2 separate regions of the Homo sapiens genome follow, and region 2 is linked to region 1. The links come from fine-mapping of genetic effects on gene expression. A gene starts in region 1. The other region holds a variant in brackets. All regions are shown on one strand. Distances are between the middles of the regions.

Region 1 (4,404 bases):
GTTTTGAAGAACCAGCCTTCTTTACAATATTTCTGCTGGGTTTGTTCCCCTCAGAAAACCTGTCATTTCCTGCTAACACAGTGGTCTCACTGGCTTAATGTGATGGCAATGACATATAGGAGCAGAACCAGCAGTGCCAGCTGGATAAATGTCCTAACCCCGATTGAGGGAACTGCTTATTCAAGTAAAAAATCAGAGATGAAAAAGACCTGTTAAATAAGCCAGTGCCTCCTGTAGTCACTGCCAGAGCATTCCTATGGTGAGAGCTTAGACCCAGCCAACTCTAAATGACTTTAACAAGGTGCCTTCTCACACTTTATTTGGAAGACGGGGCTGTCTCTTCCATTTTTTCTTCTTTTTTCTTTTTGATAAGTTTTCTAACTAGAATTTCATTTGACCAGTGTTATTTAATTTTTCTCTTACTGTTTTTGGTTCAGCTACAGCACCCCAATGAGGTAAGCGATTTTCAAAGAGTCAGTATAAATATACCAACAAGGTTTAAAGTGCTTTATTAACCCAGCCATTCCACCCATGCGTCTATATATTTTGACCAAAGTGATGTAGGGGGAAAGGATACACATGTGGACTTCAGAGGTAAATATGCCCAGGTTAGAATTATAGTTCTACTTAACTGGGGGCTTATCATTTTCATTATTATTGTTTCCAGTGACTGCCATTTAGTAAATGTTTCCTGTGTGTCAGGCTCTATGGCAACTACTTTCGAAAAACTGCTAGCAAATGTAAGAAATTGATACTGTCATCTTTATTTTAGAATCTAAAATGTAGTAATTAAGACTGGAAGCACTATAGTTAAATGGGCTGCTTAAAATGCCAACACTGTGACCTTGGACTTTCACTTGACCTCTCTGTGCCCAGTTTATCTATCTGTAAAATGGGGATGATGACAATGCCTGCCTCATAGACCGTTTTGAGGAATAAATGTCTTAACATGTGTAAACTGATTCGATCAGTGCCTAACACGGAGCAAGCATTTAAATGTCATCAATATTGATAATATAGAGATGAAGTTTGCTCAAGGACAATTCATTAGTAAGTGGCATCCGTTATTAAGCAGTAGAATATACTAGCATTGTCAGGACACTTAACCTTTTTTCCTCAGCTTTTCTTAATGGCAAAATGGGGATAATGCCATATCTCCTGCAGAGGCACTGGGAAGATTAAAATACAGTAAAGTAGGTAAAGACTCGATTACAGAACTCAGTCCACAGTTGAGGCTCACATAGTAATAGTGCTCTCTCTACGTCTCTACATCTACATCTGTTGAATATATGTGTATACACATATATATTATAACGTAATGTATAGCTTTGTAGCCAAAGACTTACTCTTAAATGTTTCTCATAATACAGGAACTACAGAATGGCTCAAAATATATCTTTATGAGTTTACTCCCATTTAAAAGAATTGGGTTGGTTTACTGGATAATTAAAAAGTTTCCTTCTTAATAAGGTTTTATTTTATATTTTTAACATTTTGATAGCTTTTAGTACATTGTTTCTGGATTCTTTAAAATAGTTTATCAAATGTTTCAAAACTGCCTAAATACTTCTTCTTTCACAAATACAGATCTGCCATAATTTGAATTTTTATATCACAGAAGGAAGAGACACAGTTACAACTTAGCAGAAAGAAAGAAATGTGATGATATGTTTTTGCTGTTGTGCTTTTTTTTTTTTTTTTTTGGTGTGTGTGGGAAAGGGTGTGATGTCATCTTGTCTCCACCCCCTGTGAGTAAGCCCACGGCACAGCTAAGTGCAGCCGCCCGCCTCTGTCACTGGGAGACAGTCCACTTAAATGCAGCTCCAGGGTTGCGAGGCACCCACCAGCATCATTCCCCATGCGAGGTGGCAAATGCAACATGCTCTCCAGTTTGGGGTGTCTACTTCTCTGTGGAAGTATTACACTAGCCCTGGGAAATGCACAGAAATTGCCAAAAGGCAAGTAGCCTGATGTTTTATGTTTTAAAAATAATATTAAGATATAGATGTTTTTAAATGTTGATTTTAAATATGATCTGCTTTACCATACGGGGGGAATAGAGTTATTCTGCAGAGATTCAAAGTTCAAATGTGTGAAGGGGTCTCTTAAACTTTTACTTTCCCCTCCTGTTATTTACTTTTCAATTACAGCTCTTTATTGCAAAAATGAAAACAAACTTATTACATTGAGCAGCTGTTCATCAGAGCTTGAACTGTATACTTTCTAACTATAGTGCTTGTGTATTGAATCATATTGTGTAAATGGATATTATAGTCTGTTAGAAAGAGTTGTTTGGTGTTTTTATCCTCCTCCCCAGAGACTGAATCAGTACTAGCTTAAGATTCAAAAGAAGCTGGTTCTGAAACCTTGAATCTTTGGTGTGAACCTCAAACATACCTGTTGACCAGGAAGCTGAGGGAGTCTAGGCAGGTCAGACCAAAGTACGGTCATGTGCTGATTTGCAGACACGTCCCTCCAGTGGAGTTTGGAAGAGGGCTTGAGCTGTTGGACAGGACACTCCCCCCTTTCTTGGCTAAATTGCTCTCATTTTAGTGTTGGTATTTTGTTTACAAATGTTATCAGAAGAAAATTAAAATTTCTAAATTTTGACCCTAAAAACAACCCTTTGAGCCCATCAGAAACCAAAACAAGAGGCTGTTGCCTCTCTCCTGTCTCTGAACATAAATGTTGCATGTACTTTTGTTTCTCTGCAGAGGCACTTCTCTAAGCCAACTCTAGGTCTGTGAAGGCTTTTTATGGTTGCAGACTGCTGTAGTCAGCAGGATTGTGAAAAACAGGCTGGAATTTACCATACAGTCATGATGGAAAACATCAGAAGTAATGCAGAGCTGCAGGCTTGTCAAGAACCTGGTGTGCCTAAAGTCAGAAAGAAAGGTTGCTAGTGTCAGAATATCCAAAAGATCATCCCTAGGTCCTCTCTCTGGGTAGTCTGCCCCAGGATCATCTTGTCCCAAGTGAAAACTGTTCTTTCCTCGGTGGGTAAAGTGAAACTTGAATCCAGCATGTGAAGGCTGAAGCGGTTGGCTAGTTGATATTTCACACGATAATGTGAACAGCAATAAAAAAGACTAAGTAAACTTTCTCAACTCTGATCAAATAATTAAAGAAAAATAAAAAACAAGCACTCTTAGATCTTTTTCTACCAAGAGTTTTGCTCCTTGATCACAATAAAACTGTGATTTAAATAAATCAATTATGAGCCACAAGCATTCAGAGTTAATTGTACCTACTAATGGAATATTTAACAGTAACATATCATTTGAGAAGAGTCTGGGGGTTTTCTCAGTCTTAATACCTACAGAAGACTTTTATTTTACTTTTTATTCATTGCATAGGGATGATATAGGTGCAACTTTGTTACTGCAAACTTCTGGACAATCCCAGTGCTTTAATTATCGTGTTGCAATCACTAGACACAAATCTCTTGACACAATTTTTCTTTATTTATAATGGGAAAGAAAAAAAAACATAGTTGTCGAAAATGGCCACAAAACTTTTGTTGTTTATTTAAAAAATATTTGTAGTTTTGGTAATTTGGAAAAAAACATCAAATTATAATAATGATAAAAGAAATGGCAAGTCTTGTTTTTAATATTATGTTTTTTCTTTATTGGAAAGCTATTGAGGACCTTTTAGCTGAAGTCATCTTTTTCAAACTGTGCTCCAGGCATAGGTGCACTGTTTGTCCTACAATGGGTAGAGTTTGGGGTGAGGGTGGAAGGGCAGCTGATTCCTGTCAATAACTTGTGGAGTCTTTAAGGGGGGAATCACAATAAGTGTTAGCAGTTTGCACATTCTCAATAAAGAAACCTGTACAACTTTTTGTTTCTCACACTCATTTGACTAAGAATCCTCTTTTCCATAGAAGATCTATAATATCTTAACAGGGGTTTGTCTGTCACAGGACACATTTGGGGAAATGTTGAGTTAAAAAAGAAGAAAAAAGAGTAAAAGTTTTTACTTTTGTTCTTCCTTCTACTTTAGAGTTGGTTAAATACTATTTGTGACTTAAGAAGTGGTTAGAATTCTGGAGCTAGAAAAGATATTCATGATCACTTAGTCTAGTGATTCCCAGACCTTTGGATTTATGGACCAACAAAAATACACAAATATTTTAACATCAGGGTCCTGTTATAGAGAGCATACTTGAATTTTGCTATGTGAGGATGCTCAAAGGGAACAGGGGAGAATGTCTAGTGTTCATAAAAGTAAACAATTTTAACAGATTTATACAATAAATAAATTTAATTTCATAAATAAGTCCATTGTTATTTTTCTCATTTTCCCACAGACTAATGAAAAATTGATCACAGGCCAATATTTGGAAACCACTGACCTAACATAACCATTTATTTTACAAATGAAGATACCCCAAAGCAGGGC
Region 2 (4,404 bases), 150 kb after region 1:
ACCTTGAATGGTCCATAGCAACACAGGATGATGACTGGATCTCCGCAAACCATTGCTTTGATTTTAGCTTCTTAAATTTTATTTATTTTTATTTAGGGCAGACCACCTTTATAGCTCTCCTAAAGATGTCTCTTTCTAGCCAAGGTTTGGAAGAGCAAATACACCACCCAAAGCTTTTTGAGGCCTTTCCCAGCCCTCTCCGCACACTCTTCTATTTTTCTGTTTCACTTTCCTTTACAGGCTCCTTTTCCTTTGGCTTTGCTTGGTGGTTAAGTCAACGAGTAAAAATCCACATTGATTTGGGCTTGTTTTATAAGTACAATTCAGCGCATTTCTCAAAAACCACAGCCACCTACCATGTCTTAACTTGTCTACCTCGTCCAGTGGGAATTGTTTCCTTCATGGTTTAATCTTTAAGCTTCTAATGGACTGAAAATAAGGGGGTGCCCCCAATTACAGGTGTTTGTTTCACTTGACCGTCTTCCAACGTGGATAGAATTGTAAATTGTTCTCATTCCTACACACATGTGAGTCAAATTTGTCTTTGTTTTGTGCTGAGATGAGTGGCTTAGTCATTTACAGACCACTCAGCTTTGTTATGGAACATTTTATACCTTTACCTATAATACCTTATGATTGTCAAATAGAAGGCGTGTCAGAAGATATATTTATTTTTACTAAACATAGACCTTACTGTTTTTATGTGCAATTGACTTTGAAGCTTAATTGATGGAGTTCTATCCCTATTTGGTCTCAAACTCAGCCAGGAACTCAAAAATGCAGATTTTTCCTTATAATTTCAAAAACAACGTTCTTTAATTTTTGTGAAGTCTAAAAGATGCAATGAGTAGCAAATTTTATTTTTCACTTGTGGAAGGCAACTTTGTAGAATCAAAAACATGAATTACAATCTTGAAGTTTCAAAATAATTTTTTGTTTGCTATCTTCAGGTATGAATGCTTATTTGATATTTATTGTATTTCATGTATTGATGTTTATTTTCTTCTTGTCCTATAGCATCTGAGGTACTTAGACCTATACATGCACTCCCTTACACATACAATTCCCTTTCTCTTTCTCACACACTCTCTCTCACATGCATACTCTCCTCTCTCTCTCCATCTCCCAGACACTCTTTCTTCTCCCCTTCCCTCTCTCTCTCTCTCTCTCTCTCTCACACACACACACACACACACACATCCTCTCCCTCCCTCTCTTTCTTTCCCTCCCTTCCTTTCTCTCACACATACACACACTCTCCCTCCTCCCTTCTCTCTTCTGTCATACAGACTCACTCACACACACACACACACACACTCAGAATTTTTACTTTGTTATATGAACTTCAGTCTGACACATCACTACTGCTTTTGCCGTTCATCTGTTACAATCTATTTCTGCACAAGTTCTTGAGAAATCAGAATTCGGGGCTTTTAAAAACAACTTTAACCTGCTTCTTTTGCACCTAATTTGTACTCTTTAGCCTCAACACAAAAATTTTTTGATCACAGATATGTTAATGGATGATAATGCCTTTAAATAGCACCTTATGCTGTTATGCATTGCTTTTAGAAGAAATAAAAATTCTGTACCTGCGTTATTATATTTTTCCATTGAAGTAGTTGTTGTTAGTTGCTACATAGAAACTTGTTATAGTTCTTTTTTAGTCGCTACGTATTCTCAAAACCTGCCACACTCCCTTGTCAAGTAATATCAGAGATCATTCCTGATAAGTCTAATATTAGAAATGTATAAGTAGAAGAATGACTTCAGTTCTATTAAGATGGTCTATGAAAGCCACATTGATTAGTTTCTTTCTTTAAGAAAAGTCAAAGAATCTTAACTTTTTCTTTCCATTTCAAAAATAAACAATTCCTTTTTAATTTTCTCCTTAAACAATACTTTTTGTTGATAGAATAATGAGAAACCTATTGGGTAATCTTTTTTTAAGCCCAAATATTGTAACCAAGCTAAATTCAACATGAAGTTTAATTTACTTATTGCTAGTTTGAATAAACATTGGAAAGTTTATCAGAATATTTAGATACTGTTATTTAATTTAGCATCTTATGAAATCTGAGACTGCTTTTGGACTCATTGGTTTACCAGTCCAAATGGGTTAAGTTTCATATGTGAACCAATTTGTTTACCAGCGATAGATACTAGTGAATACAGGAGGCATCATATGAACAGTTGTGGTCGCTTTTGAACAATAAGTTTAATTCTTATCTTTTTTGTGAGAGAACGTCAGGTCCAGCCAAGCTGGAGATTGCAAACTAACAGCACAGACACAGTACCAGGTGGTGAGTCTGTTGCCTGTTCCATTTCCTTGGATGAACCTGGCTGTCCTGCAAGAAACAAATA[T/G]CAGGTGACAGGACACTCTGAACAACCTCAGAGAGGCTACCCAGAACTCCCTCTAAGTTAGTATTTCCTCAGCACCAGAGGCAAACCAGAATATTGGGAAGTGACGGTAACAGCTAAAGATCAACAACAAAAATGAGAATTCTCAATTCTTGTGGTTTGTAGAGAGGATGTGGAAGGTTGAACTTCACTGGCAGAAGCCAGTAGAACCTAATCATTCACCCAGGAGAGAACTCCGTTTATAGTCAAGAACATGTCACTTCTATCTCAGATGGTGCTCTTCAGCATTGCTTTTGATATTACTTGCTTTTATTACAGCCCCAGAACCTCAGACTCTACTGCCATCACAGTCAACAATAGGTAATAAAGCTTTTTTTAATGAGTGAAAACAAAGTATCTTTAACACTCTCCATGTTCAACTTTGTTCAGCTTTGGGTTTTGTTTTTTTTTTTTTTTCTTCTCCAGATGAAGTTTCACTCTCGTTTTTTTGCCCAGGCTGGAGTGCAGTGGCGTGATCTCAGCTCACTGCAACTTCTGCCTCCCAGGTTCAAGCAATTCTCCTGCCTCAGCCTCCCAAGTGGCTGGGATTACAGGCCTGAGCCACCATCCCTGGCTAATATTTTATATTTTTAGTAGAGACAGGGTTTCACCACGCTGGCCAGGCTGGTCTCAAACTCCTGATCTCAGGTGATCCACCCACCTCGGCCTCTCAAAGTGCTGGGATTACAGGTGTGAACCACTGTGCCCAGCCTAATATTTCTTAATTTTCCTTCAGATCTTTTTCCAGCCATTTTTGCCCGAAGATATACTCTCAGCCTGTGCTTGACTTAGCAGTGGTTCTGAGACACCCATGAAAGCAATACTAATTTTAATTTGATAGATTCTTTATTCTCCTTCAATTACATTTGAGGAATATGCCCTGAGCTTGTTCTAACCTGTTTATTGCCAGGGAGGACCCTGACTTTCATAGGATATATTTATGTTTTCTCTTTTGGAGGTGTTTTTCTTACTTTCAAAACTCTAACTTTTGCAGATTTTCTTGAAAAGTGCCACGGACTAGGAAATCCACTCAAAGAGAGAAATAGAAAAACCAACCCCAATCTTTATAGCTTCTTTTTCTTCAAAAGAGCAAAAAAAAAAAAAAAAAAAAAAAAAAAAAAAAAGTGTTCTAATGCCATCTTAGCCAATTACCCATATTTTCCTTCATAACATGAACTGCTGGTTACTTTATTACAGTCACATGTTCCAAGTGAGAATCATGCCTTTTTGTTCCATTTCTCTTTCCAAACTTAACTGACTGGCTACATTTTTTTGTTCGCTTTGTCGAAAACACAGGAATCTATTGAAGTAGAAAAGAAACTTTGCATGTGGATAAAAGCTTCACCATTTATATTTGCTCAATCTAGTAATTAAAAATTAAGCATATTCCATGTTTTAAATACATGTCATTTTTCCTTTGATCTTGATTCTTTCTTGGTGATTTTTTCACATTGTCTTAGGACCTGAAACACCAGGAACCAAACCTTCAACAACATTAGGTAATAGAGTATTGAGTGGGTGACCTTTGTTTCTTCTTTTCCTGTCTGCTGGTATCTGTGTTGACAGACTCACATTAATGAATTAATACATTAATGTCCCTTTGTGTGTGTGTGTGAGTGCTCTGTTCTTCAGAAAAAAAAGTTAATTCCTATAGGTATAGTTTATAAACTGTATCTCATTTTTTAAAAGTTGCCTGTCCTGACATAATTAGTGAATTTAAAGCCTTCTGCATATATTGTTGATTTGTGGATATTTTAAATGCTAAGTGAAAAATTTATCTGTTTAAATCTTAGGCCAAATTTTAATTTTTATCCCAAATGGCTTTATAAAAGCAACCTTTCTCATGTTCCTGTTGAACATATGCCTTCAATATTTTTGAGTGACTATCTTCTCTAAGCTGTACAAAGTTTTGAGATTTTCCATCTCAAAATGGAAGAACAGACAGATCTCTTGGACAGTTTATTAATCTGTGACAAAAAAATTATTCAAGACCTCATTTAACTA

The links. PIP is the estimated chance that this variant, and not a neighbour inherited with it, causes the effect. A credible set is the group of variants that fine-mapping cannot tell apart.
Region 2: its variant is the best candidate, but not a certain one, in a credible set for the expression of ABI3BP in pituitary (GTEx, PIP 0.78).

The regions. Positions count from the first base shown.
Region 1 is chr3:100,990,860-100,995,263 of GRCh38, reverse strand. It overlaps ABI3BP (ABI family member 3 binding protein), which reads left to right and starts at 1,843. Exons shown (of 68, transcript NM_001375547.2): 1 at 1,843-1,958. The coding sequence starts at 1,880.
Region 2 is chr3:100,840,315-100,844,718 of GRCh38, reverse strand. ABI3BP (ABI family member 3 binding protein) reads left to right here. Exons shown (of 68, transcript NM_001375547.2): 21 at 2,680-2,721; 22 at 3,861-3,899. Among named protein-coding and RNA genes, the nearest start is that of TFG, 130 kb to the right of the region's middle. The variant T/G (reference allele first, on the strand shown) is at 2,365.